Linked DNA regions of Homo sapiens. The protein of the gene in region 1 purifies or fractionates together with the protein of each later gene. This does not show direct contact. Each region holds a gene or a part of one and is shown in the gene's direction. Other genes may lie near its edges.

Region 1 (3,500 bases):
GCACCTGGGTTCCTAGGCAGTGTGTTTGAGTGCACATGCACATAAAAAACAAGCCTTAAAGAGACATTTTTCTTACGCACATTGTGGTCCCAGAACCACCCATCAGTTTACCTGCGTACTTAGGTTACCATTTTTCTTGTTTTTATCAGGAAACCATCAACACAGGCCCTTTTGTGATGCGTTCCACGTGTAGGAGATGTGGTGGCCGCGGCTCCATCATCATATCGCCCTGTGTGGTCTGCAGGGGAGCAGGACAAGCCAAGCAGAAAAAGCGAGTGATGATCCCTGTGCCTGCAGGTGGGTGCTTGGGCCCGCCATGTCCAGGAGCTTGGAGAGGGCAGACAGGGTTGAGGCTACCACACCGTGTGGAGAGGGTGGACAGGGCCGAGGCCACTGCACTGAGTGTGAGTGGGCTCTTGGTAGAAGTTATGGTTGAGGCCCTGGAGCCCCAGGCTGGAGGAGGAACTGGAGTCTCCTTGAATCTTTCTGTTTCTGCCAGTTATCCTTAAAATTTACACTTTGCATGTCACAATGGGGAGAAGAGACCTGACGTGCCTACTCTGCTTCTTCCTGGTGAGGGAGCAGCTTCCAACCCCCGGGCTCCTCTCCTCTCTCCCCTGTCTTAGTCACCGAAGCCATCATTGTCCCTGCTGCCACCCTATCTACATCAGCCCCACGGATCCCACCCCTCACTCCATGTCTACTGTTCCCTTGCCCAAAACTCACTTTCTGCTTTCTTTTTTCGGTTAACTTTATTCATCTTGGAGATCCCAGCTTGAGTATCCCTTCCCTAGCTAGCCTCACACCCTCCTCCCTGTTCTTTTTTTTTTCTTTTTTGAGACGGAGTCTCGCTCTGTCACCCAGGCTGGAGCGCAGTGGCCCGATCTCGGCCCACTGCAAGCTCTGCCTCCCAGGCTCATGCCATTCTCCTGCCTCAGCCTCCCAAGGAGCTGGGACTACAGGCACCTGCCACCACACCCAGCTAATTTTTTGTATTTTTAGTAGAGACGGGGTTTCATCGTGTTAGCCAGGATGGTCTCGATCTCCTGACCTCGTGATCCACCCGCCTCGGCTTCCCAAAGTGCTGAGATTATAGTCATGAGCCACCGCGCGTGGCCTGCTTTACTGTTGTTTAGATGTCTGTTTCTCTAGAGTTGTGAGCATTTCCATTGAAGAGCATGTCTCTGTTTGTAGTTATGCATTAGTGCTATCGTTTGGTTAACACCCATCACCCCAGTGAGACCATGAACTCCCTGAGGTACTGCCTAGACCAAGCCTGAGGCAGGTGCTCAGTCATCAGGTGTCTGTGTTGCATCTCTGGAAGGTTACCCATGTGCCTCTTAGATAATGACATTGTTCCTCGTTAATAAGAAACAGGAGTGGGGAAGAAGCTGTGGGTTACAAGTGGATCTTGGGTGGAAAGTGCTGTGGGAGGTCTCACAATAACTGCTCCCTTTCTTTTTTTTCTTTTTCTTTTCTTTTTTTTTTTTTTTTTAAGACGGAGTCTCGCTCTGTTGCCAGGCTGGCGTGTAGTGGAGTGATCTCGGCTCACTGCAACCTCCGCCTCCTGGGTTCAAGCGATTCTCTTTCCTCAGCCTCCTGAGTAGCTGGGACTACAGGCGTGTGCCACCACGCCCAGTTAATTTTTAGTAGAGACCAGGTTTCACCATGTTGGCCAGGATGGTCTCGATCTCTTGACGTCATGATCTGCCCGCCTCGGCCTCCCAAAGTGCTGGGATTACAGGCGTGAGCCACCGCGTCCTGCCTAACTTCTCCCTTTCTAATGTCCCTTGTAGGAGTCGAGGATGGCCAGACCGTGAGGATGCCTGTGGGAAAAAGGGAAATTTTCATTACGTTCAGGGTAGGTGCCCTGCCCCGCACAGCTTCTGTTGGGCCTTTCCTCTCTTCGGGTGGGTGTGGCTGAGGCTGCTCCCATGTAATCAAAGCTTCACAGGAACATGTCTCGCCATTCATGTTTCTGAGGGGCACAGTGGCCACCTAGATGTGGTTTTTAGCTGTTTGTTACCTTCAAGATTCTGTGCCTTGTGTGGAGAGAAGACAACTTCTTCAACATGCTAACAAGTTAGAAATACAGGTCACATAAAAATACAGGAAACATCTTGTGTTTTTATGATAAGATTGTTGATGAGGCAGTGAGTGTGAAAGTTACAATTTTACATACTGTATACAGGGGCAAACCTTGGTTTTCTGAGATGGTGGAAACATTAATGAAGACAATGCCTTCTACTGGCAATTGCCCTCCTATGTGTACACCTGAGAAAAACCCACACAAGCCTAGCAGGCGATAGGTACAAAGGGGTGCACAAGAGTCCTGTCCATGGTAGCAAGACACTGCCTTCCTCCAACAAGAGAATGGCTCAGTGAGCCGTGGTGGTCAGAGGCTGCTGCAGGGCAGTCGGAAGGAAAGAATGAGAGCTGAACTCAAGGGATGCTCCAGGCGTTGCAGGTACAGACAGCAGGGATGGAAGGCAGCTTGCCAGTGGCTGTAGGGCCTCAGAGACCATCTGTGTAAAGTTTTAAAACCTGTGAGATGGCATTATGTATTATTTAGGGACACGGAAATACATAGTAAGTAGAAGCTTGTAGGAATGATAAATGTTAAAGTCAGGGTTGTGGTTAGCTGAGGAGGGCAAGACTCACCGGTGTTTATGATGTTTTATTTTATTTTACTTTATTTTTTGAGGTGGGGTATTGCTTTGTTGCCTAGGATGAAATGCAGTGGGGCAGTCTTGGCTCACTGTAGCCTCAGACTCCCTGGGCTCAGGTGATCCTCCCACCTCAGCCTCCTGAGTAGCTGGGACTACAGGCACACGCCACCAGGCCCGGCTGACTTTTGTATCTTTAGTAAAGATGAGGTTTCACCATGTTGCCCAGGGTGGTCTCAAACCCCAGGGCTCAAATGATCCACCCACCTTGGCCTCCCAAAGTGCTGGGATTACAGGTATGAGCCACTGCGCCCGGCCTGTGATATTTTGTTACCTCCACTGGGTTGTGGGTATGACATGCTTGTTATATTATTTACTCTTCCCTTTTTTTTCTTTTTTTTTTCTGGAAAGAGAGTCTTGCTCTGTTGCCCAGTCTGGAGTGCAGTGGCATGATCTCAGCTCACTGCAACCTCCACCTCCCAGGTTCAAGCGATTCTCTTGCCTCAGCCTCCTGAGTAGCTGGGACTACAGGCATGCGCCACTACACCCAGGTAATTTTTGTATTTTTAGTAGAGATGGGGTTTCACCATGTTGGCAGGCTGGTCTCGAATTCCTGACCTCAGGTGATCCACCCACCTTAGCCTTCCAAAGTGCTGGGATTACAAGCGTGAGCCACCACGGCTGGCCTATACTTTCTAATAAAGTAAGATTTTTTTTTTTTTTTTTTTGAGGTGGAGTCTCGCTCTGTTGCTCAGGCTGGAGTGCAGTGGTGTGATCTCTGTTCAGTGCAAACTTCATCTCCCAGGTTCAAGTGGATCTTCTGCCTCAGCCTCC
Region 2 (3,500 bases), on another chromosome or scaffold:
CCCAAGTAGATGGGATTACAGGCATGTGCCACCATGGCCAGCTAATTTTTTGTATTTTTAGTAGAGACGGGGTTTCTCCATGTGGGTTAGGCTGGTCTTGAACTCTTGACCTCAGGTGATCCACCTGCCTCAGCCTCCCAAAGTGCTGGGATTACAGACCTGAGCTACTGTGCCCAGCCAGCCTAATTGATTTTTAAAACGAGTTAGAGATTTTGGGTTAGTCTTGTTTTCCAGGAATAAAGTACCATTTTTAGTGGCCAAGAATGTACCAGAGGGTGTGGCCCTGTGACATCCGGCTGGGTCTGTCCAGGGCCCCGCTCAGCGACCGAGGCTTTCTAGGATTTATGCTGCCAGTTGCAGAGAAAATGGCCCTGAGTGAGGGCGCTGTGACTGCCCCACCTGCCTCCTGTAACCGCGTGGCTGTGGGATTCGGGGCCGGGAATTCGCGTTCCTGTGGGGCCAGTGCACGGCCCTGTGCTTCTCCCTCGGGCGGAGAGAGGGTGGGGGCAGCCCCGTGCGTCTCCTGCTCTAAGAGGGAGGGACGGTGGGGGCCGGTGCGCCAGTGCGGTGTCTCTGCTGCAGGTGGCTGGGCTGACGCTGCTGGCTGTTGGGGTCTACTCAGCCAAGAATGCCACGCTTGTCGCCGGCCGCTTCATCGAGGCTCGGCTGGGGAAGCCGTCCCTAGTGAGGGAGACGTCCCGCATCACGGTGCTTGAGGCGCTGCGGCACCCCATCCAGGTAGCAGCGCAGGCCTGGCCCTCCCTGAGTGCAGTTCCTGGCTGAGTCCCTTCTGCCCCACGAGCACAGCCCACGCACACCCTCCCGTCCCTTCCCTTTCCCCGGATAACGGGCACCCGCACACTGCTTCACGGGTGGGTTTTCCTGTCTGGCGCTGTACCTTAGGGGTCTGCATCAGTGAGACCCTTCCCCTGTCTGCCTCGGTGTCCCCTGCTCAGGGCTCTTGATGGGGCCTGGGAGCACATCGGGGTCCTTGCAAGACCCGGGACTTGGGTGTGCGGCCGTCTATCAGGGAAGCTGCTACAGGCCACGGCGTCTGGTGGCCTCCCTGGGGAGCCGCGCCGCTCGCCGCCCCCGAGGTGCCTGCTCTCCACAGGTCACTGGGTAGGTGGTTAAGAAAATAAAAGCCAATAAGGAACCGGAAAATGCCCCTAATCCCAGCAATAGCCGCCTGGTCTCCGGGCGGGGCAGGGTTCCAGCTCCGGGCCGGTCCTGGCTGTGCTTTGGGGCAGCTCCGTTTCTGCGTGTTACCGAGCGTGTGTGTGCGCGTTGGTGGCTGTTCCGTGGCTGTGGCAGGTGACCCGATGGCGCTTCCCCTTCCCCTCCGGCAGGTCAGCCGGCGGCTCCTCAGTCGACCCCAGGACGCGCTGGAGGGTGTTGTGCTCAGTGTAAGTCGGTGTGCCTGGGACCGGGGAGGCGCAGGGAGGGGACCCTGGAGCTGGGCCGGGCTGTGGCCCTTGCTGGCGCTCGTGGTGGCACCCAGGAGCTTTTGGGTCCTGAGATGCGACTGCTTGGACCGTGCTGGGGATAGATAGGCTGCCCCTGAGGTGGGAGGCTTCCCGAGGAGCCGAGTCTGCACCCAGGCATTCCCGCAGCCCCTTCCCCTGAGGCTTCCATGGGTGCACAGTGTCTCCTCCAAACCCCCGTCTTCCCCGGCAGCCCAGCCTGGAAGCACGGGTGCGCGACATCGCCATAGCAACAAGGAACACCAAGAAGAACCGCAGCCTGTACAGGAACATCCTGATGTACGGGCCACCAGGCACCGGGAAGACGCTGTTTGCCAAGGTGAGAGCGCCTGGCTGAACAGGTGGGCCAGGGGCCGCTGGGGTCTCACCTGCCTGCAGGTGTCTGGGGGGCTCAGCTGCCTGGGGAATGGACCCCCCTTAGGCCTTTGCCCACCCTCGTGTAGGCTCAGGGTGCTGGTGTGGGCAGCAGCGCCTCCCATCTTCCAGGCGGGGGACGTCTCCTGTCTGGCAGGCTGTGGCTTCCAGGCAGGGACGCTGGGCAGAGCCTCCACACTCCGGGTGGAGTGTGCAGGCTTTGCAGAGGCGGAGGGAACATCTGCTCTGTCTCCCCTCACTCTTCCTGTCCAGAAACTCGCCCTGCACTCAGGCATGGACTACGCCATCATGACAGGCGGGGACGTGGCCCCCATGGGGCGGGAAGGCGTGACCGCCATGCACAAGCTCTTTGACTGGGCCAATACCAGCCGGCGCGGGTGAGACGTCCCCACAGCATGCACCAGGCCCTTGGCTGCGGCCCAGCAGGCTGCCTTCTGGGAAGGGGGTCCAGGTGTCTCTTGGGGACCCTGTCTTTCTGCAGCTCTGTCCTTGTGGCCACGCAGGAGGCCCAGTGGAGGGTCCCTCGGAGGGAAAGTCCCCTGAGTGTGGACCCTGGTGGACACGAGGCCCCCAGCGTGTGGAGGCTGCCAGTGGGATACTTGGCTCAGGGCAGAAGGGAGGTGGGTGGGTGCAGGGGGAGAGGAGTCTTCACAGCTGCAGGGGAGGCTCCTCCACAGCCGCCCTCCCCCCAACACGCCTGCAGGTGGGCGTGGGCACTGGTTGCCTTTTCTAGAACCATTTGAAAGTTAGCTGAAGACAGCATGGCACACTCCCTTCAATAGGTCCCACAGTGACCCCGCGCAGGGCACAGCCCGGGCACCCTTGTGGCCTCGGCTGTCCTCGTTGGAACCACGATGCTCATGGTTGGCACCCTCCCCTCTGGCCTTTGACCTTTCACTTTAGAAGACCTGTCCCTGTCGTGGACTCTAAGCGGCCACCAGTGCTGCACTGGGCCGGGTGGGGGTGAAGCCTGTGGGGCGGAGTTCGTCGCCCCCGTGTGTGGTTGGTTTCCCACGGCCTTCTGAGGCTGGGCCGTGGTCAGCTGCCCAGAGGCCAGGCTGATCGGCTTCTGTCGAGTCCAGGACTTAGGGCTGCTGATGGGGCAGAGCCTGACCCCGTGGGGATCTGCCTGCTTGGCCTGCTCCTGCCGCGGCCGGACGCTGCTGTGGGCTGCTCCTGGTGTCACTCTCGCCCTGCTTGGCCTCCCTCTCGTTCACAGCCTCCTGCTCTTTGTGGATGAAGCGGACGCCTTCCTTCGGAAGCGAGCCACCGTGAGTGTCACTAAGCCTCTGGCCACAATGGGGTGGTGGGGTGGGCACAGCCGTCTGCCTGGGCCAGGCTGCAGCCCTCTGTTCAGTTTCTTTTTCTCTGTAAGCTTTGTGTGAAAAACAGCTTTTTTTTTTTTTTTTTTTGAGAAGAAATCTCGCTCTATCACCCAGGCTGGAGTGCAATGGCCCCATCTCGGCTCACTGCAAGCTCCACCTCCCAGGTTCACGCCATTCTCCCGCCTCAGCCTCCCAAGTAGCTGGGACTACAGGCTCCCGCCACCACACCTGGCTAATTTTTTGTGTTTTTAGCAGAGACGGGGTTTCACCGTGTTAGCCAGGATGGTCTCGATCTCCTGACCTCGTGATCCTCCCG

The links. Proteins that work in one complex are often made in the same cells at the same time.
Region 2: the proteins of DNAJA3 (region 1) and ATAD3A purify together in Homo sapiens (tandem affinity purification; one large-scale study listed by IntAct). This does not show direct contact.

The regions. Positions count from the first base shown.
Region 1 is NC_000016.10:4,442,868-4,446,367, forward strand, and holds part of DNAJA3 (dnaJ homolog subfamily A member 3, mitochondrial), read left to right. Parts: intron 1-149; coding exon 150-297; intron 298-1,796; coding exon 1,797-1,861; intron 1,862-3,500. UniProt on the Homo sapiens protein: Modulates apoptotic signal transduction or effector structures within the mitochondrial matrix. Affect cytochrome C release from the mitochondria and caspase 3 activation, but not caspase 8 activation.
Region 2 is NC_000001.11:1,522,162-1,525,661, forward strand, and holds part of ATAD3A (ATPase family AAA domain-containing protein 3A), read left to right. Parts: intron 1-582; coding exon 583-738; intron 739-1,349; coding exon 1,350-1,406; intron 1,407-1,677; coding exon 1,678-1,803; intron 1,804-2,111; coding exon 2,112-2,236; intron 2,237-3,078; coding exon 3,079-3,130; intron 3,131-3,500. UniProt on the Homo sapiens protein: Essential for mitochondrial network organization, mitochondrial metabolism and cell growth at organism and cellular level. May play an important role in mitochondrial protein synthesis. May also participate in mitochondrial DNA replication.